Regions from separate parts of the Homo sapiens genome. Here regions 1, 2, 4, 5, 6 and 7 are each reported to be linked to region 3. Evidence: microRNA targets listed by miRTarBase, many of them from high-throughput screens and not tested one by one. Region 3 holds a microRNA gene; each other region holds the end of a gene's coding sequence. Distances are from middle to middle.
What was found. The annotated mature microRNA hsa-miR-1827 reads UGAGGCAGUAGAUUGAAU and lies in region 3 at 1,538-1,555, shown strand. An mRNA with a match to its seed (bases 2 to 7 or 8) in the 3' UTR can be bound and repressed. Matches are read on the target gene's strand: a 7mer-m8 pairs with bases 2 to 8, a 7mer-A1 pairs with bases 2 to 7 and ends in A, and an 8mer does both.

Region 1 (3,094 bases), 94 Mb from region 3:
CCTCAGGTGATCCGCCCACCTTGGCCCCCCAAAGTGCTGGGATTACAGGCCTGAGCCAGCATGCCCAACCAACATTCTTTTCTAAAGCATGTTGGTCAGAAGCAGTCCACCACGGAGGGGATGAACAACAGTATACAGTCATGGTCTTTCATCAGGGCTATGTTAATTCTGTTCTCTGTCATGATGTAATCTAAAAAATGTGGACCATTTGCACATTCTGCAGAGTATCACATTGGTCCACCATCTTGTAACTTTACATCCTTCAGACGTCTTTTTTTTTTTTTTTTTCTTTTTTTAAAGACAGAGTCTCCCTCTGTTGCCCAGGCTGAAGTGCATGGTGCAATCTCAGCTCACTGCAACCTCTCTGTCTCCCGGATTCAAGCGATTCTCCTGCCTCAGCCTCCCGAGTAGCTGGGATTACAGGCACACACCACTATACCTGGCTAATTTTTTTGTATTTTTAGTACAGACGAGGTTTCACCATGTTGGCCAGGATGGTCTTGATCTCCTGACCTCGTGATCCGCCCACCTAGGCCTTCCAAAGTGCTGGGATTACAGGTGTGAGCCACCGGACATCTTTTAAGTAGAATGAAGACTACTTAGAGGTAGGAACCAACCCTACCTTGGTGATTTTTGTTCCTCCAAATATCTTTGCACATAATAATTCAATATTTATTCAAAGAAAACGTTATATACTGTTTCATACCACAAACAAGATTGTTCTGTCCTTGAAAACAAAACCTTTTGTATCTTTGAATCAGGAAATATTCTATAAATGCCTATTGACCTATTAATTTCCTCTTCCCTAACAATCAGATACTCTACCAGGATATGTAGATATCTTCTTCAGGGCACCTTGCACTTAGCAGAGTCCCAAATATTTTATTTTCTCCACTCTAGCACCACCAAATCATGTAAAGTATACAGCCACTCACATTTCACATCAACTTCTCCATTCTTATGCATAGCTCCTTCCAGCCACCCCTCTGAAAACTGACTCTCCTAAACATTTCCGTAAGACCCAGGATCATGTTTTCATATATACCCATCAATCCATTTATCCAAAACCCACTTGTAATTTAACAAGTGCTTTTTATTTTTATTGAAGATGGGGTCTTGCTATGTTCCTAAGGCTGGCCTCCAACTCCTGGTTTCAAAGGATCCTCCCACCTCAGCCTGCAGAGTAGCTGGGATTATAAGTGTGCTCCAACCACCATGCCCCGCAACAAGTATTTATTAATCTAACTTCACTTTTATGGAGTTTTTGTTTTTTAAAATATAGAGATGGGGTCTTGCTATGTTGCCCAGGCTGGTCTTGAACTCCTGGCTTCAAGCAATCCTCATGCCTTGGCCTCCCAAAGTGTTGGGCTTACAGGTGTGAGCCACTGCACCCAGCCCTAACTTCACTTTTTTTTTTTTTTTTTTTTTGAGACAGTCTCACCCCAGTTGCTCAGGCTGGAATGCAGTGGCATGATCTCAGCTCACTGCAGCCTCAAACTCCTGGGCTCAGGTGATCTTCCCACCTCAGCCTCTTGTGTAGCTGGGACTGCAGGCACGCAGAACCATGAGTAGCTGGAACTACAGGCATGCAGAACCATGCCCAGCTAAGTTGTTTTTTTTTTTTTTTTGAGACAGAGTCTTGCTCTGTTGCTCAGGCTGGAGTGCAGTGGCACGATCTCGGCTCACTGCAAGCTCCACCTCCCAGGTTCAAGTGATTCTCCTGCCTCAGACACCTGAGTAGCTGGGACTACAGGTGTCCGCCACCACTCCTGGCTAATTTTTTTGTTTGTTTGTTTTTGTATTTTCAGTAGAGACAGGGCTGTGTTAGCCAGGATAGTCTCGATCTCCTGAGCTCGTGGTCCGCCCCCCTCCGCCTCCCAAGGTGCTGGGATTACAGGCAGGAGCCACCGCACCCAGCCACTTTATTTTTAGTAGAGACGGAGTTTCACCATGTCGCCCAGACCAGTCTCAAATTCCTGTCTCCAAGCAATCCTCCCACCTCAGCCTCCCAAAATGCTGGGATTACATGTGGGCACCATTCTGCCCAGCTGTAATTCTTAAAAATTATTATTAAAAAAGAACAAAACACATAGATGCCCTAGACTCAACTCAGCTCTACTGATCAATCTTTAGGGGTTAGGACTAGGCTTTTGAAATGTTAAAACACCCAGAAAACTGATGACCAGTCAGGCTTAGTATCCGCCATCTCTACCATTCATATGGTACTTAATGTTTCATATTTAAATGGAAAGGACACCTCACACTTTTTTGTTTTTCCTATAGTTCCTACTCAGAGAATATGCCTAATAAATATTTTATGAGAGTAGTACAGAAGTATGACTCCATTTTTCTCTTATATTTCATTTCAGTGTGGAAGGCTCTTTAGAAACACTATTAACATAACAGCATTATGTCAAAAAGCGCCAATAACATTCTCACCAACTTTTCTTTTTAAAGGAATTAGGTATAGCTAGACTGTAAAAGGCAAGTGGTGTGAAGCCCAAACCTAAGATCCTAAGATCTAGGATGAGTCAAGACTTCATAGTCTACATGAGTAGAGGCAGCATCTAGAGGAAAACAAAAGTATGTGGCTATCAAATTCCAAAGAAGCCCCATTTTATTACAGAGAAAATACAAAGCCGTTTCCTCACAGGGAAAAGTACAGTTTCCCTTCTCCAGGGTGACAGATGAGCCTTTTCCGAAGTTCTCAGCTTTCTCTTCTATCGAAACTTCCCATGTCGGTTAAAGTGTTTGTAGAGATAGCGGATGCGTTTATTAAGGTTGTGCAGGTCATCAGCGAACATTCTACTTCCAACCATTTTCCTCTTTCGGATACAACGTTGCAATTCATTCCCTTTCCAACCTCGAAGCCATATGGGCCCCCTGATCAGTTCTTTGGGGTGCTTTTCAAAGTTTCCTGTGTAATGTGAGAGAACACATTAGATCCAAGACAAGAGAACTCATCCTACACCAGCTAAGCTTTCAACCCACGGTTGCATCTTGCTGAGCAGCACCTATAGACAAGGAACATTACAGTACAGAACAATAGCACAGACTCTGGAGCCAGACTGCTTGGGGTTAAAATTCTGATGCT
Region 2 (3,095 bases), not on the chromosome of region 3:
GGCAGGAAAGGGAGGGTAGGAAAGTCTAACACGGCAGGCATCTCTCATCCAGTCACAGCATCTTCCTAGATGTGTCCCCCCAAACTATCCCCTAGTCTTGGAATTTAATGCCATTCAGCACCAAGCCTGCCCTGGTTCAGCGTTTCCATCCACCTGTGAGGGATTCCCCACCACACCCCAATTAAGGACAGGTACTTTTTTGTAAGACACAATAAAAATTACTAAAAAAGGAGAACAGGGAATAGCAGACACACAAAGCACAAAGCCAAATATTTATTACATCCAATAGACATAAAATTACTCTGTCAAATTGCTATAAAGGGTTTTAAATGCTAAGTCAATTTCTAAATATCTATTTCACTACAGGCAGCCAAGAGTATAACTTGCTTCAGCCCATGGGTCTGAGGAGCCTGGGACTGCAGGCCAAAGCACTGGCCTCAGAAGGCTAAATAAACTATTGGACTTGATGTTCCATGAGAATTCATACAACCCTCTGCAGAACTTCCCCATCCCCAATCCCTCAAAGCTCTTCTTCACTGCTCTCCTGCACAAACCCTTACCATCTTCTGTAACTACAGGTCTGTCTTCACAGCAGACTAACGTTCTTGAAGCTAGAGGCTATGATCTTCTTCACCTTTAGATTCAGTGCCTAACTATATCTGGTACCCAGTTTTTGTTCAACAAAAAAAATCTGTAAGTTAAGGATACTAGCAGTGCTTTTGTTTCACTTTTATTTACTTTTGTTGGTTTATTATTTTTAAAATTGGGTTTACCTCAACCCAGAAAATAAGAGATAATTTACACACTGTACTGACATTACCTTACTTGCAAACCAAGCTCTCCAACTCAAGTGTTCTTGACTCATGTCTTTTCTACTATTCCAGTTGTATTTCACAAAACATGTAAATAATATGGACATGTCAAGCCATAATCAGGTTTATACGGGGTAAACTAACACCTACAAAGAACAGAAAGGGTTTGCTGGACTATGACATACCACAGAATGGCTTAACATTTGATACATTTTAGTGGTACTAATTTTATAACTTTGGGAAACATCTGTTCATGTAAAGCCCAGCAAGGGCTAGTCATCAAGTGCTAGCAATGGGAGGGCAGATGGTGAGGGGTTAAGTGATGTAGTCATTTGAAAATGTCTATAAATTTTCCCTTTAAGAGGTGGAGCTTAATTCTCCTTACCCTTGAATATAGGCTAGACTTAGTGACTCCCCACTTACAGAATAAGGCAAAAATGAGCATGTCACTTCCACAGGGAGGCCACTGAAAGGCACTGTGGTTTCCTTCTTGCTTTCATACTCAGGGGAAAGCCAGCCACCATGCTGTGAGGACACTCTATGGAAGGGCCGTCAAGGAGAGGAACTGGGGCCTCTGCCCTCAAGGAAAGGAACTTAGGCCTCTGCCCTCAAGGAGAGGAACTGGGGCCTCTGCCCTCAAGAAGAGGAACTGGGGCCTCTGCCTAACAGCCAGGTCAGTGAGCAGAAAAGTCAGCCCCAGTCAAAGCATCAGATGACTGCAGCCCCAACCAGTATCTTGTTTGCAACCTTACACCACACTCTTTGCCAGAACCACCAGCTAAGCTGCTCCCAAATTCCTGATCCAGAGACCTGTGAGATAAATGTTTGCTGTTTTAAGACAGTAAGTTTTGGGATGGTTTATTATATAGTAGGTAACTAGTATCGGTGGTGAGCCTTTGGGGGGTTTATGTGAATTCATCATGCCTTGGGAAAAGCAGGGTAAAGTTGAGGAAAGAAAAGGGGTATAAATGACTAAAAGAGTAGATGCTGCCTTGTTCAACAAGTGCTTAAAACTAGAGTTAAGTGAGCTCTGTGAATATATGAGAATGACTATTAAACTCTATAGCCATACTACTAGTACTTTTTATCAATTAAAGATAGTATGAAAGGGGAAAAAAAGCTCCAAAATTGTTAATAGCATCTTTATTGTTTCACTGGTGCAAAAAAAAAAATCATAATTGTGATGCATTTCCTGCTAAATTTACAATGAAGGTGATACATAAATTATATAGATCACAAGTTTTCTTTTATACTATTTAAAACCCAATTATATTGATAAATATGTCCAGAGGACAACATGGGTTCTTAATGGATGGCTGAGTCCAAATATGCAAAATATAGCTTCTGGTTTTGACCATGGTGCTTTAAAATTCTCAAACATGCATTAATATATTCTAGTTTTAGGGAAAATCTTACACATGGCCTTATCTTGCAATTTAGGGGAAAGCCCAAGATGAATTTCACATACAGTATTCCTTTCTTCTAAATTAATCTCAAACTGGACTAGAAAACAAGAGACAGACGCTTTTGGGTTAGTACTCCCCAGGAATGAAGAAAATACACAATCAACAATGAAGCAAACAAACAAACAAAAAAAAGGAGAGCTTCATTAGTAGCCAAGATAAGTGCTTGTGGGTTTTGTGTTTTTTTTTTTTTTTTTTTTTACAGATCACAGGAATTTTAAATTGCAGATCAGTCATGCTACTTGGGGTGATCAGAAAGACTTGAACACTTACCAAGTGAATAATTTTATTAAGGTCCTGAAGGTGAGTGTCCGGAGGTGCTGGGTAAAACACATCACAGGTAAGAAATGGGAAACCTACCTCAGCATTTCTGAAAGGCACAATCTATGGAAGGGAAACCTAGCGTAATAAAACCCTCACTGGATGTACATGGAAAGGAGTATGGTGAGCTATTTCCTTTTTAAAGGATGAGACCTTCATAAATTGGCCCCTCGGATTCTGGTGATTCCCGCCGCAAGCGCAAATGCTCCAGTGTGTTATGAAAATGTTTGTTAATCTGCTCTGTTTCTTCACTGGATTCAAGATTCGGGAGGTCTTCTCGAATCTTTTGGATAAGCTGGTTTAAAACCTGAATTGTTACCTACAAAAGAATATGTACAAATTCATGATCAAGCACGTACCACAAAAAATGAAAGGCAATTTAATAAAACTGTTTTGAGGAGCTTCTGTTACACTCATCAATTACCTGAGTAATTATGAAAAAAGAAAGATGGGGATACAATTCCTAGTTTGAACAATTACTGACTATCAAAAAAAAAAA
Region 3 (3,098 bases):
CCTCTTACCCAAGGGAACAACCTCAGCCCCATCCCACAGTGAGGGGGAGAGGAAAATGCAGCAGGGAGGGAGGGAGCACCAGCTGCACAGCCAGGCAGTCCTGCAGAATGGGCTTCTCTAAACTTGAGTGGTGACCCACTGTGGGCCAGGATATCAAATTAAGAAGATAAGAAGTCAATTTTGAGGGGACAAGCATTTTTTTTAGTATTAAAAGAGAAAATAGTACTTAGCTTTACTATATGTAGCAGTGACATTTTTCTTTCAGTTTTATGTACATACTGACAGTATACATTTACATACAAAGGTGTATTATCTGCTGTCGGTTCCCAGTCAAAAAAGTGAACAACACTGTGTCCGAAGGTAACATCCTTCCCAGTGTCCAGAATTGGTTCCTTCTGGTGGGTTCTTAGTCTCGCCAACTTCAAGAATGAAGCTGCAGACCTTTGCGGTGAGTGTTGCAGCTCTTAAAGGTGGCACGGACCCAAAGAGTGAGCAGCAGTAAGATTTATGATGAAGAGCGAAAGAACAAAGGTTCCACAGCATGGAAGGGGACCCGAGCAGGTTGCCGCTGCTGGGTGGGGTGGCCAGCTTTTATTCCCTCATTTGTCCCTGCCCACATCCTGCTCATTGGTCCATTTTACAGAGCGCTGATTGGTCCATTTTACAGAGTGCTGATTGATCCATTTTACAGAGTACTGATTGGTGTGTTTACAATCCTTTAGCTGGACACAGAGCACTGATTGGTGCGTTTTTACAGAGTGCTGATTGGTGCATTTACAATCCTTTAGCTAGACACAGCGCTGACTGGTGTGTTTACAATCCTCTAGCTAGACAGAAAAGTTCTCCAAGTCCCCACTCGACCCAGGAAGTCCAGCTGGCTTCACCTCCCACCAGGAGGCCAAACAAAAAGGACAGTGCTGAGAGGAACCATCGTCCTGCTAGGGAAGGGAGTGTGGCACAAAGGCAGGTGGGTGTGGGCAGACCCCCCCTGCCACGGGTGTGCAGGGCAGAGGATGATGAGCCCCAAGCAGCAGGAGCAGGAGCAGTAGAGCAACTCTGCCCCTGAAAGGGTCTGGAGCCTTCCCTCATCACTCTTCCTCAAGTCGATGCTGGACACCCACTATGTACCAGGCCGTGTGAGGCACTGGGGTAAACCAGAGACAAGACAGACAGGGTCCCTGCCCCATGGAGCTCCCAGCCTTGCAAGGGAGCTAGACCACAGATGAGTACACAAAGAAATACAGTAACTACAGGCAGTGGTAAGGGCTGTGAAGGAGAAGCACGGCAGTGAGGAATGGGAGGAACAGGGAAGGCTTCTCTGAAGAACGAACAGAAGTAACCAGAGAAGAGACAGCCCGCCCTGCAAAGGGACAGCCTGAGGCAGGGCCTGTCGGGAAGACAATACATCTGAAGAACTGCAAGAAGTCAAGTGGGCCTGCAACAGAGGAAATGACAGGAGTCAGACCCCATGGGACCCTGAAGGCCATGTTCAGCAGCACAGCCTTCAGCCTAAAGCAATGAGAAGCCTCTGAAAGGCTGAGGCAGTAGATTGAATTGATTCAGGTCCCTTAGAATTGGGTCCCTGCAACAGGTGGACCCAGGACCGGCAGAGAATGCAGATAGGCGCCCCTCCTCAGCCCCCAACTCTAAATATAACAGAAGACATGGCTCAGTTGCTCCCTTGGTGGCCCTGGACAAGACAGGCTGAAGTTCTCTGAGCCTCCGCTTCCCATGCTGAGTCATGGTGAAAGGTCTCTGAGTCTACAGGCCAAAGCCACTGCTCCTCTCATGACTGCAGTGATTTCCATGGACAGTGTTATGCAACGGCGGCCCTTCTGATACGTGGGGCCCTGGGAGCGTGTGAACTGATCGAGACCAAGAGGACTGATGGGACACAACTGCTAAGCACAACCTCATGCTCCTGGGAGCTATCAAAGAAGACCAGGCACCAATGCAGCAACACACACACACAGCCCAGCCAACTTCCCGCAACTGCTGAAACTCCACGGGCCCAAAAGCAAGTCGCCTTCCTTCCTGCTTCCTTCTCTAGAAGGTCTGGCTTTAAAAATGTCACTGTGAGGCAGCAGCATGGTGACTACATGCCTTGTCTTTCTTGGCAGACAGAGCCATGCCTTCCAACGAGGAAAATTACAAATACCACGTTATGGCTCCTGGACAGGAACAACTTCTCCCAATTCACCAAACATCTGTGTGCCTGCTTTGAGCTGGTTTGCGCCCTCTGCTGCAAACAGGGGCTGAAGAGACGAGTCACTGTCACGACTTTAGAGTCCTAGACACTAAAACCATAATAGATTCTTGGGAACCCCCGCCGTGCTCACAGATAACTCTTTCTACCAGGCCTGAGTGGGTCAAGAATGAAGCAAAAACTAAGAGTCAGAGCAGGGCCAACTGCAGGGCCCGCAGAAGACCTGTGGGAGGGAGGCCTGGAAGGAAGAGCACACCTTCCCGGCCAGCTCAGCCCTCACAACTGCCCTTGAGAAAGGCACCCTGTCCACTCCACCCAAGGGAGTGGAGACACACTTCACCTACTGGCTCAAAAGAGTCAGAGGGGCAACAGTGGCAGCAATGCCAGCAGGCCTGGGGTGTGTAGCCACCATTTACAGAGCACTTACAATCAGTCAGGCAGTGTGCTAGGCATTTCTTATTTGTAACCTTAACAACACTCTCACTGATCCAGAGAGGGAGAGGTTTACACACACACACACACACACACACACACACACACACACACACACTCCAAGAGGATATGAGGGCTTAAAGCTTGGGTTAGGCAATAAGCATCTGGCATCCTCTAAGCATGAAAGGCACAGTAGTGAACTATACTGACAAAATCTCCTCCTAGGAGGTGATGCTCTAGTAGGACACAACAGCAGATGCTCAAAGACTAGATCAGGGAGCAAAACCATCCTGAATCTCTAGCCGACTGAGGGCCCCCTGTGCTGGCTGGTGAGCTACTGCCTACTGGACAATCATGAAAGCCACAGTCTCCCTAGGGATCCTCTCAGCTCCTTGCCCCTCAGATGGTCTCACACAACCGAGTGCTCAGGATGTTTACTGAACTGAGCACTTTAGGCAGA
Region 4 (3,098 bases), not on the chromosome of region 3:
AGGTCCACATCTGCGGATCGAACCAATGGCAGATCAAATACTCAGAAAAAAAATATATAAAAATAATGGCAAATTAAAAATAATACAAATTTTAAAACACAATACAGTACTATTTACATAGCATTTGCATTGTATTAGGTATTATAAGTAATCTAGAGATGATTTAAAGTATATGGGAGGATGTGGGTAGTTAATGTGCATATTTTTTATGTAAGAGACTTGAGCATCCAAGGATTGTGGTGTCTGTGGGAGTCCTGAAACCAGTCTTCCTTAGACACTGAGGGACAACTGTAGGCGCTATAAATGTGAGTTTATTTGTGTATATACTTTTTTTTCCCCTTTGCAGGAAATCCTCCTTCCAAGGTTTATGGCAATATTCGAGCTGTGGCTAGCAGATCAGCAGATCGATTCTGATTTCAAGTCAGAGACTTTTTATCTTGCCTTTGGACTCTGGTGAAAAATACTTTACAGTGGTCGGTCACAAGAAACCAGCTGAACAATTTCAGTCATTTGAAGCCTCCGTCCCTTCTTCCATTCTCAGCCAGAAGCATAAACAGAAAAGAAAGATTTAAGAGGATTCACACTCAACAGGTTTTAGGATAATTTAAATATCAAAAATTGATTGTTATACTTAACACATTAGGTATAATTTATCATTTATCTGAAATCACATGTAGCAGATTGCATAGTCTGTAATCCTCTCAGAGGGAAACTTCTTGTTTAAACAGCTCTATATGGATTTATACTTTTATATTTATAAATTTATAACTTCATACAAATTTATAAACATTTCTTTATAAATTGTAATTTAATAGATTATCTCAGAAAAACCTCTCTGAATGATGACCCTTCCTTAATACTGGGTGATGTGTGAATATTTGTTTGTTGGCAGACAGGGTCTCACTTTGTCACCCAGGCTAGAGTGCAGTGGTGCAATCTCAGCTCACTGCAGCCTCTGCCTCCTGAGTTCAAGTGATCCTCCTGCTTCAGCCTCCCTAGTAGCTGGGACTACAGGTATGCACCACCATGCCTGGCTAATTTTTTGTATTTTTTGTAGAGATGGGGTTTCGCCATGTTGACCAGGCTGGTCTTGAACTCCTGGCCTCAAGGGATCCGTCCGCCTCAGCCTCCCAAAGTGCTGGGATTACAGGCATAAGCCACTGCGCCTGGCCTTGATGTGTGAATATTTGAGAGGTCATAAGCAGTGGTTTTGGCCATACCGTATTATACCATATACATCAGTAAGAGCTCATCTTGGAACCTGTTTTGCAGTTTCTTGCAGTTTCAAAAATTAAAGACCTACATCACAGGGTTAATGTGAAGAAAGCTTTATTTTTCAAATGAGTATTTAATGAAAGTATACATAACCAATGTTGGGTATACAGATGCTTCTCAACTTATGATGGGTTTAGGTCCAGATAAGCCCACTGTGAGTTGAAAATACCAAAAGTCAAACATCATAGCTTAGCCTACCTTAAAAGGGCTCCGAACACTACATTAGCCTACAGTTGGGCAAAATCGTCTAATACAAAGCCTATTTTATAATAAAGTATGTTGAATATCTCATGTAATTTTTGAAGATTACATTGAAAGTGAAAAACAGAATGGTTGGGTACTTGAAATACAGCTTCTACTGAATGAATAATTCTAAAGTTGAAAAATAATAGTAAGAACCATCATAAGTCTGTTTCTTCTAGTAAAGGTGAAATGATGAAAGAATGCTTTTTTCCCACCCAAAAAACTATGCTCTATAAATGCAGATTAGCTAGTTTCTGCCTGTTTAAATGGTATTATTTTATACATTACAAAATGGAAGGAACTTACTTTATTAAACTTAACTTTGATACTTCTCTTATGCATCTCTAAAACCCTTGATGAAAACATGTAAACTTCAGTAATGGCAGTATTAGAAAGTTCATGTAGGAACTAAAAGAAAAATTGTTAAGCTTGTTTCCTTTATATCATCAGTTACATATCCCACTGTTCTAAGCTAGTTTGTACAGTATGTGGGATCGGATATACTTAGATATTTTTAAAAATTTCATTCATTAATGCTTTTTTTGCAAAATACTCAACTGGGAATCCAACTGGAAATTGCTGAGTATGTCCCACCTCAAATTATTTTTTTATCCTTTGGCAACAGCAGCATGGAGCAAGGATATGTACAATGATATCAGATCCTTTTACTCATACCTTTTTGAAAAAGATTTGGGACTTTTTTATTCTGGAGTCTGTACAGGTTTTCAGAGGTACTTGCCTACCTTCATCCTTTCCCCAGGAAGTTAAATTCAAAATTGTGACTATTTCATTTACTTTCCTGGGGAATGGGCCCATGCCTGTAATCAGGTTTTCCAAGCACTTGGACTGAATTGAACCATTGCTAGGTGACCATAAATGTTTTGAATCGACTTTCAAGGAATGGAGGAGGCAGGAAGTTAAAAGCATCATTTCAACTGCGAAAATATGGGTTATCTGTATTAAAGGGAAATAACGTTTTGGTATTATCCAAATTACTTCCCCTTTTGAAGATTTCCTATGTAATTACAACTGTCAGTAATACAAGAGAGCAAATATATTTCCCTGGCAGCTGCTAAAATTTGGAATGCTGAACGTTGGTTTAAGGAGTTGCTTTCACCTCCTCCCCACCCCCGCCCGCCGCTTAGTTAAGCGTTTGTATCTCCTGTTCCCCAGTAGTAGTAGTAGTACTACTTGGGGCTTTTGAAAGGGAGAGAAAATGTTAGGGGAACCCAATTAATAATCCTTGGGATGGGAAAGTATGAAGAAGGAATAGAGGTAATAAATTTGACTATCATACTGGCAGTTGATCTTAACCTGGGTCAAATAACTTCATTAAACCCTTCTCTAAGGCCAAGACACTAAATCTAATACTTCCAACCTTACCTGTTTCTATGGCGCTTGTCACTCTATATTGTAATTATTGTGTCTGCCTGCCACCCTAAGGCTTATATTTTGGATACTCAGTATCTGGTACGATTTTCTGACATACACTTTACATATGTATTCACTGATACATTGCCTGGGAGATGGGCCTGAGAGAAGAGCATTTTCTTAGGTATTCGTGGCTGGCAAGAGACCCA
Region 5 (3,091 bases), not on the chromosome of region 3:
TGCAGTGGCACGATCTTGGCTCACTGCAACCTCCACCTCCTGGGTTCAAGCGATTCTCCTGCCTCAGCCTCCCGAGTAGCTGGACTATAGATGCACGCCACCACACCCAGCTAATTTTTGTATTTTTAATAGAGATGGGTTTTCATCATGTTGGCCTGGATGGCCTGGAGATCCACCCGCCTCGGCTTCCCAAAGTGCTGGGATTACAGGCTTGAGCCACCGCCCCTGGTCTACCCTGTTTCAGTCAATAATGACTTCTTTATCATAAATTGTCATATTCGTAGATAATTAACTTGTTCTTTTTGGGGGTATTTATGCTTGTTTACGAATGGAAGGGAAATGTCAGCAGTGAAATTGCTAAAAAGAACCAAAGGGCCCCTGTTGGACTACCTGAAGTCAAGCTCCTGTCTCCCAGACAGATGAGCCTTTCATAGAAATACAACTATTCACGTAAACTTTTTTTGTGCTTTAGATGTGGAAACAACTTCTGTGCATCTCATCGTTATGCAGAAACTCATGGCTGTACCTATGATTACAAGAGTGCAGGGAGGAGATACTTGCACGAGGCAAATCCTGTGGTTAATGCACCAAAGCTTCCAAAAATCTAACTCTTCCTCTACATCTTACTGTTCTGCCCGGGATTCGTATTATAATGACAGAAGAAATGTTGTTTAGACTATTATTTTTGTTCGACTCTAAAAGATTTGCCAAATAACAAAAGCATACAATGCATACTGTTGGAGAACAAGAATGCTACTGTATTTTACATCTTTATTTCTTGGTGAAACAAAAGTTTTAAAAGTAGTTTTAACAACTTTACACTGGAATGATTTAGCTTTGTTATTGCATGTCTTGTGTTAAGTGTTTTGTATATGATATTGCAGTTTTACTAGGCAAATCTTCAAAAGATGCACTTTAGGAAACGAAATATTTCCTAAATAACCAGGCTTCCACATTGTACAGAATGAGCAGTCATGTAATGAATGGCTCTACTCAGATTGACCATATGGGTTTTTTCTTTTTCTTTCTTTTATTCTTCTCCTTCTTTTTTTTTCAGAGGTGGGATGGGTGGAGATTTTTTAAAAATCCCACGTGTGAAAGTTTACTGGCTTTATTAGCAAGTTCCTTTTTACTTCAAGCTACTTTTTATAAAAAAGAACATTTTTCCAGTGTGGTTTTTAACAGATAATACATTTCTTCCACATTCAGATTAGTATTCGGACATGAATCCATTCTATAAAACACATCGTGTTCATGATAGTGTATATTTTACTACTTTTTGAATGTTAATTTTAAAATAGAAGATGTCCCACTTGCCATTAAATATAGAAGCCAACTTTTTACCTTTTGAAATATGGCTACATTTAAAACAAAATCTCACAGCTCGGTTTTTCTTATTTGTTGAGTGCTATTACCAGGAGAAATTCAAATAAATATTCAATTTCATTATGAATTTCATTATTTATTTATAATAGTTTTTCTTTTATAAATAATTTTTCTTTTATAAAACTATTTAATTAAATGAGTGATTTATTTTACGTGGATAAAATAACTATCAGTATAAAAATATTCTTTTAGGATATTAAGGACCCTGTTCCCCAGGTGTAACCAGAAACCACTAAGGCACTTAGTGGCCACTTGCTGTATAGAAGCTCAGTTCAGACTGATGCTGAACCCTGGTAAACAACTAGCACCTAACCCAGGTAGACTCTGCAGCCCTGGGGTAGCAGACTCTGCTAAGAGTACCAGACTCTGCTAAGAGTACCAGAAGGCTAACTTAGGAGCTGTGAGGGGCCCCTTCCTCTACTTAAGGCTGAATGAACTGGAGAGCTCACTGCCCCTGCTCCTGTAAGAAATGAAATGTTGATGGAGACAGATGCCTTCAGACAAAGAGGGCAGTACATTCATAAGAGGGAATGGCTAAAAGTTAGCAGAGGAGCTATGCAAATGGGGGTTGAAGGCATGCTTTTTAAGAAGGGTGGATATAAGTAGATGAAAAATACTTTCATCTGTGTTATGAATAATTCAGTATTTCCTCCTGTATCAAGAAGACACGTGTTTTAGACACTTAAAATATAAGAACTGCCTTACAGAGTTAGACTGCTGAGAAATGGACCATAGCATATTTATTCTGCAAACAAATATGAATGCCTAGGGCCTACTTGATGTAGTGTGCTATGCTTTTTAAACCAAGACTATAAGTAGAAGTAAGTCTCATTCTAAGTTTTACTAAAGATTGTGGTGAAAGTTAAGTCTTTTTACTAGTTTTCAATAACTGACAGCTGAACTATTTTAATTCAACAAGTTATATCATTATATTGAGGGGCATTTCTTTATGCTTTAAATTCTTACACAGACACATTCCAAATTTTAGAGACATTGTATCTGTCTTTGCATTTCCAGTAATTAGCAGAGTAGATTGCCTGTAGGTACTGGTTAAACATTAGTTGAATAAATTGATGCATTGGACAACTTAACCGTGATTTTTTTTTTTTTTTGACATAGAGTCTTGCTGTGTCACCCAGGCTGGGTGCAGTGGTGCGATCTTGGCTCACTGCAACCTCTACCTCCTGGGTTCATGTGATTCTCCTGCCACAGCCTCCCGAGTAGCTGGGATTACAGGTGCCCACCACCATGCCTGGCTAATTTTTGTATTTTTAGTAGAGAAGAGGTTTCACCATGTTAGCCAGGCCAGTCTTGAACTCCTAACCTCAAGTGATCTGCCCACCTTGGCCTCCCAAAGCGCTGGGATTACAGCCATGAGCCACTGCACCTGGCCCATGCTTTTTTAAAAAAGGCATTTATATTGTTTTATTTAGCTAAGCCCATTTTATGTAACGAAGTTCAGTTTCTGGATTTTTTTAAAACAGCATTTAGTTTTAACAGCACTAAAAGTTTTAAATTTTTAACTTTTGGCTATGTGGAATATTTTCAGGTTATATTTAATGTAATCATTCTAAAAAGGGAAATCCAAATACTCAGGTGTCCTTAAAATCCTATCAGTGTACGTGTAACTTGTGGAGACAATTATTTTTTAAAAGACAGGAATTCATTTTCTCATATATGTTTAATGTGATTTTTCTTTTTTTTT
Region 6 (3,000 bases), not on the chromosome of region 3:
AATGTGGTGAGTGTGGGAAATGCTTCAATCAGAGCTCAAGCCTTATCATTCACCAGAGAACCCACACAGGAGAAAAGCCCTATCAATGTGAAGAGTGTGGAAAAAGCTTCAATAACAGTTCTCATTTTAGTGCACATCGGAGGATACACACAGGAGAGAGACCCCATGTGTGTCCTGACTGTGGAAAGAGTTTCAGTAAGAGTTCTGACTTACGTGCACATCATAGAACCCACACAGGAGAGAAACCCTATGGGTGTCATGACTGTGGTAAGTGCTTCAGTAAAAGCTCTGCCCTTAATAAGCACGGAGAAATCCATGCACGGGAAAAGCTTCTGACACAGTCAGCTCCCAAGTAAGCCCCTGAGGATATATAACGGAAAGAGGCTCAATAAATGTATTGTTTAGAAAGTCTTCCAATAGTGAGATTCATCTACTATTCTGTGTCCAGTTAGCTTAGGAAATTCACTTTAGGATTTATGCCACTGTTTGTTCCTTGTTTTTCCTGATCTAGACTCAAATCCCCAAGGCAGTCTAAAGAATGAAAGGAAGATTTCAGTCCCTCTCTTTGCCTGCATCTGAATTGATGGATAACATCTTTTCCCTCTCAGTGCCTATGGTGTTCCCTTAATATAAGCACAGAGGACAAGGTAATAGATCCTATGAATTTGATAAGCATCCTTCTTTACTCATTCTGTCATTCAGCTGCATTTTGACAGGAAAAACCCATTACATTTCGAGAAGAAGTTATGAGACTTTGCCCATTAGGTGGGTCTAGCTCTTTTTTTTTTTTTTGGAGACGGAGTTTTGCTCTTGTTGCCCAGGCTGGAGTGCAATGGCACGATCTCAGCTCACTGCAACCTCTGCTTCCCGGGTTCAAGTGATTCTCCTGCCTCAGCCTCCCAAGTGGCTGGAATTACAAGCATGCGCCACCATGCCCAGCTAATTTTATATTTTTAGTAGAGATGGGGTTTCTCCATGTTGGGCAGGCTGGTCTCAAACTCCCGACCTCAGGTGATCTGCCTGCCTCGGCCTCCCAAAGTGCTGGGATTACAGGCATGAGCCACTGCGCCGGGCTTTTTTTTTTCGAGATGGAGTCTCACTCTGTCGTCCAGGCTGGAGTGCAGTGGCATGATCTCAGCTCACTGCAACCTCTGCCTTCTGGGTTCAAACAATTTTCCTGCCTCAGCCTCCTGAGTAGCTGGGATTACAGCCACCTGCCACCATACCAGGCTAAATTTTGCATTTTTAGTAGAGATGGGGTTTCACCATGTTGGCCAGGCTGGTTTTGAATTGACCTCATGATCTGCCTGCCTAGGTCTCCCAAAGTGCTGGGATTACAGGTGTGAGCCACTGCACCCGGCCCAGCTCTTCTTTATACAATAATGGAAATGCTAAAATGAATGACTCTTCCTGCTCACTTAAACCTGTGCTCAAAATGACATATTTGTCAGGCACCCTCTTCATTTACCTTAAAGAAGGAGAGTTTAATGTCCATCTTGGTTCTGCCCTATGAATCATCTTGTCAAGAACAGGTGTTCTTATGCAGAAACAATGAAAACCTTATACTGAAGTGTGAACCCTGGATTTCTTAGTTTCTTCTGAGTCCTAGAAGAAGGGTTGGAATAGAATAATACATTTACAGGATTTAGGTTGGTTTTCTTTCTGTCCAGTCTCATCTGAATTTCGTCTGTCTCTTGTGGTCCAGAAGTTCCACAGAGCAACGCAGCTGCATGTGGTGACAGGTAGAGCAGTTAAAGCTGCCAATAGGAACTCGTCCATATTCCACACACCTGGTATAGTGTTATGCCCTCCATGGGCACTTACCTGCAATAAGCAGAAGCCACTGCCACATTCCCGTGTATTGGGAAAATGGACTACTGTGTGCGAACAGGCCCTTTACCCTAATGGCAGGGAAGATGGATTATCTTTGGCCAGTGGAGCTGCCAATCTAGACATACACATTCAACTGAATACAATTAAAAGCAGTTCTTTAAATGCAAATATAATTACTCATCTTTATAATACAATAGTATTAACTGCCCATATGCTCATAGTATGATGAGCCCTGTATAGCACAAGGTCAACAGGTCCTCTCCTTGTCCTTACAATCTAAAGCAGATGACACTGACATGGACAAACAAGTGCACATGCATAGTTGCGGCAGTTTTAGAGAAATCTAGAAAGCTAGGTAGCAACACTATGCATAAATGTTGTGGTCCAATGCATTAGTTTGCTTTAACAAAAATCTGGGAGGTATTTTTTCTCTTTATTCAGGAAGGCTTCATGAAGCAGGAAGTGGTCAAAGGAGGGAAGGTTACTGGTTAAATTATGATAGGAAGAACTTTCCATAACTAGTTGCAAAATTGAGTGCTGGGTGGGTTGAGGAATGGGAAAAAGGGGGAGCAAGGTGTTTTGTGTAGATGGAACAAAGGGCAAAGGATAGACTGTAAGGAAGGCCAGATAAAGCTTGGAGTAGCATGAGAACTTGAGGAATAGTATGATATGGGCTGTGCAGCAGGCAGAGAGAATCACCTTAGCTGAAACATGGGTGTTAGGAGCAGACCATGAGGTGGTAGAACCATCATCTATAGTAAATCAGGTACTACGCTATAACTATTGATAAGGAAACAGCTGACTGCCACTGAAAGAATAAGCAGTTTTAGGGGACTAGCTCCTATGGGAGATAAAGGTCAGAAATCGTAGTATCTGATGAAGATATTTTGATGAGCAGGTGAGAAGAAAGATAAACATGGCCAGATGGCCAAGGACTGGGATAAGTAGCCGTTTCACATTCAATTAGAATTCTGTGGCTGGAATAAGATCAGGGAGAGCAGTAGGAAGATATAGTATTCTATAATTCATAGCTTGTTGTGTTAGAGATTAATTAGGATTCTGCTGTTGAATCTTAGTACAAAAAAATCTAATATTTATTAGGAATTAAGGGAAGATGGTACTTCTGTTATGTTGCCTAAGCAGACAGGAAGCTACAAGAAACACCAG
Region 7 (3,098 bases), not on the chromosome of region 3:
TCCAGCAACATGCAGAGGTACCATAACATTTTTAAAACTTTTATTCCCCCCCCCTTTTTTTTTGTTTTAATCAGCAGCTCCTGGTAGACGAAGAGGAAGACAAACCTACAGTCGCTTCCAAACTCTAGAGTTGGAAAAGGAATTTCTTTTTAACCCCTATCTGACCAGGAAAAGAAGAATCGAGGTTTCCCACGCCCTAGCCCTCACCGAGAGACAGGTAAAAATCTGGTTCCAGAACAGGAGAATGAAATGGAAAAAGGAAAACAACAAGGACAAATTTCCCGTTTCCCGGCAGGAGGTGAAGGACGGGGAAACGAAAAAGGAAGCCCAAGAGCTGGAGGAAGACAGAGCCGAAGGCCTGACAAATTAACTTCTACCTTTAAAATTTACCACAGACTATTAAAACTAATAATCACCATATGCTGTGGACACCACCTATTTTCTTTGTTGGAAAGGACCTTACCTGTGTTTCAAGCTACCTTCATGTCACTGCTCTTGAGGTTTTCTGTGCTTTGAGAGGGATTTGGGTGTTTAAAAAAGTTTCTAGTATCACATAGAAGCTGTCCTTGAGCTGTCCTATGGAAGGGTAATTTGATACTGACCTTGTAGCTATATTTTTATAATGGTTTTTAATGTCTGAGCTAGTGATTTGCCTCAACAACGTAAACTTCCTAATGATTAGCACTTAATAATTGCATATAAAATGCTTTATTAATTAAACAAGTGCACTTGAACATTTTAATATTTGTGGTGAGTAAATTAAAAGGAGTTTATTAATTAAAAAAAATTATGTCTGCAGAATACTTTATATTATTTGATTACAATGTATTATTTATGGATTTTTTATTCTTTCCTTTATAATGAATAGTTCGGGTGCGTTTTGTTTACTCCTAAAAGGTTTCTTTGCGTATTTTCTAAATGTAATATCTCGGGGAAAATATTAGAAAAGCACGTATTAGCTGAAGAATGTAACTTGTAGTCCAGCTCTGCAGCTTCCTTAAACTTAAGAAAAAGATTGGGCCAGTGACAAGAATTTAAAGACAATGTCCAAGTTGACAATTATTTTTCTATAGTCCATACAAATTAAATAATCTGGCAACTCTGGCAAATCGCCTTGTAAAATGCGTCTCATTTTTTAACTTGCTTTCGTTTTGAACCGCCCTTGTAATCGCCTGAAATCGCTAGTTCTTTATGCGGTGGCTGCCGCTGTGTTCCGTTATTTTCAGTAGGTGTCATATTTATTTGTATTGCCTTTGTTCTGTTCGCCGCTGGTTTTAAACCAGCTTGCTGTGTGCATCTCAGACGTCGGTTGGTACGTCCTCCGCTGTTCTTCAGGAAAGCGATAGCCTCACCTATTTGAAACAAGCCCTGAGAGGAAACGCAGAAAAACCTGAGTGTAAACAACTCCGGAATGTCGCTAGCTCCTTAGTAAATAAATGAATCTCTTTCTGGAGCTAGTGTCTTTGAGCGCCGCAAATACCCCTTTTCCATGAATCACTAACAATCGCCTGGGCTCGCACGAAGGAAAGGACTCGCTCAAGGCTTCTGTTTAATAAGAAAGGGGTGGGGTTACACACATTCCGCGCTGTTTAAAAAAAAAAAAAAAAAGGCCGCAGGGGCCCCTTCTTTTTCAGAGAGGACTGGCTAGTCTATCTTGCTCTAAATAATCTTGCTAAGATGCTCTGAGAGCTTTGATCCTCTTAAAGGACTCAAGTTGTAGGCCCAGTGGGGGACAACGCAAAGTCCATGTTACACCACAGCTTATTGCACTGAGCCGGCGTTGATGCTGGGGTTTGGCATCTGTTATTAACAAGATATCCATTTTCCATTGGAGGCTGCTCCTGCAGCTGCCATTTTACAGGGGAAAGTGGGGGGAAGAGGAGCGGGAGAAAAGAGGAGAAATTCAAGTAAAGTAACATTCCCGAAAAAGGGAAAGCACCTTTGTTAGGTAGTCATCGAAGAGCTCTCTGCTTTCTCTAACCATGTTTATTTTCAAAGGGGTAAATTTTTATTTCCAGAGTTGCTTTTATTACATAGATAAGAAAAATGGAATCCTATAGTTTTGCGCCAGGGTCACCTCATCGGGTTTTATCAGGCTGTTTGCCTGTGGCTTCATGGACACAGAAATGTTGCCACTGGCCAGGTCAGAAGGAAAGCACCACCTGGCTTTCCATGCTGGGAAGAAGTGATGGCTGTGACATTCTCTGACCTGAGCCAGGAAAGATAATTTTAAATCACAGGTGGCCCAGAACTTAAACATTTGCACTCCAAGAGACAGCTGCAAATGCCTATGCTGGATTTGAGAATGTTTTGCTCTGTGCACTGCTTAAGACTCTGCTGTCAGCTGGTACAGAGTAAGGATGCCAAGGGCCAAGAGGCTGGGGAACAGCCTCCAGTGTAAACCATCCAAAGACCAGTGCTGGCTGAAATCCAGCTGCCCTGGATTTAAGGGACTCAGGACTTCTTTATATATTAGCAAAACTGGCTGTCTCCTGCTCAAGGATGCTCACCAGATACTTTTAGAACCCTGAAATAATGTTGGCAAGACTGTCAGGTGGGAGCCCTGTGTATGGGTGGGTACGGAAATCAAGGAAGGAAGAGGAGATAAAATTGTCATTTCTTCAGCATTCTGTGCTGGTCTCAAAGTGTAACTTCTGGCCCCACTGGCCGCCTAAACCATGGTAAATTCATACCTCATGTACAGACAGACTGTTGCAATAGCTGGTATATATTAGATTATGAATTTGTATGTATACATAGCTTACACACACGCCCAGAGTGTTGATTATTCATGTAGGTAAATGTTTCCTTTTGTAGCTGGGAAAGAGCATAGATTTGTGTTCAAATAAAGACCTGGGGGAATTACACATCACACACACTCGCCACCTTCTTTCTTACACTGACTAGACATCCCCACCCCCCATCATGGTGTTTCATGCAGACAGACTGGCAGTGACTTGCGCACAAGATGCCCTTCTAATGGGCTCAAATGTGTCAACATCCAAGCATTGAGGCAACAAGCGAACACTTTTTTGCTGCAGAAATTTGCATAAACCTTCAGAGAATGCTTTGCCATCCCAGGCAGCACTTTTCAGCCC

Region 1: the mRNA of MRPL51 is a reported target of hsa-miR-1827. Seed matches in the 3' UTR shown: 7mer-m8 at 2,558-2,564.
Region 2: miRTarBase lists VPS35 as a target of hsa-miR-1827. The part of its 3' UTR that is shown has no 7-base or 8-base seed match.
Region 4: miRTarBase lists PNO1 as a target of hsa-miR-1827. Seed matches in the 3' UTR shown: 7mer-m8 at 956-962.
Region 5: miRTarBase lists ZFAND4 as a target of hsa-miR-1827. The part of its 3' UTR that is shown has no 7-base or 8-base seed match.
Region 6: miRTarBase lists ZSCAN29 as a target of hsa-miR-1827. Seed matches in the 3' UTR shown: 8mer at 887-894, 7mer-m8 at 1,021-1,027 and 8mer at 1,178-1,185.
Region 7: miRTarBase lists HOXD8 as a target of hsa-miR-1827. Seed matches in the 3' UTR shown: 7mer-A1 at 651-657.

Annotation. Positions count from the first base shown.
Region 1 is chr12:6,489,551-6,492,644 of GRCh38, forward strand. It overlaps MRPL51 (mitochondrial ribosomal protein L51), which reads right to left. Exons shown (of 3, transcript NM_016497.4): 3 at 2,336-2,917. The coding sequence ends at 2,721. Among named protein-coding and RNA genes, the nearest start is that of MRPL51, 2.2 kb to the right of the region's middle.
Region 2 is chr16:46,657,737-46,660,831 of GRCh38, forward strand. It overlaps VPS35 (VPS35 retromer complex component), which reads right to left. Exons shown (of 17, transcript NM_018206.6): 17 at 1-2,915. The coding sequence ends at 2,736. Among named protein-coding and RNA genes, the nearest start is that of VPS35, 30 kb to the right of the region's middle.
Region 3 is chr12:100,188,395-100,191,492 of GRCh38, forward strand. It overlaps MIR1827 (microRNA 1827), which reads left to right and starts at 1,490; the gene lies at 1,490-1,555.
Region 4 is chr2:68,174,389-68,177,486 of GRCh38, forward strand. It overlaps PNO1 (partner of NOB1 homolog), which reads left to right. Exons shown (of 7, transcript NM_020143.4): 7 at 347-1,850. The coding sequence ends at 414. Among named protein-coding and RNA genes, the nearest start is that of PNO1, 18 kb to the left of the region's middle. RefSeq lists an enhancer at 1,230-1,399.
Region 5 is chr10:45,613,953-45,617,043 of GRCh38, reverse strand. It overlaps ZFAND4 (zinc finger AN1-type containing 4), which reads left to right. Exons shown (of 10, transcript NM_174890.4): 10 at 473-1,544. The coding sequence ends at 608. Among named protein-coding and RNA genes, the nearest start is that of ZFAND4, 57 kb to the left of the region's middle.
Region 6 is chr15:43,358,429-43,361,428 of GRCh38, reverse strand. ZSCAN29 (zinc finger and SCAN domain containing 29) reads left to right here. Exons shown (of 6, transcript NM_001372080.1): 6 at 1-3,000. The coding sequence ends at 356. Among named protein-coding and RNA genes, the nearest start is that of ZSCAN29, 11 kb to the left of the region's middle.
Region 7 is chr2:176,131,243-176,134,340 of GRCh38, forward strand. HOXD8 (homeobox D8) reads left to right here. Exons shown (of 2, transcript NM_019558.4): 2 at 75-1,453. The coding sequence ends at 370. Among named protein-coding and RNA genes, the nearest start is that of HOXD8, 3.1 kb to the left of the region's middle.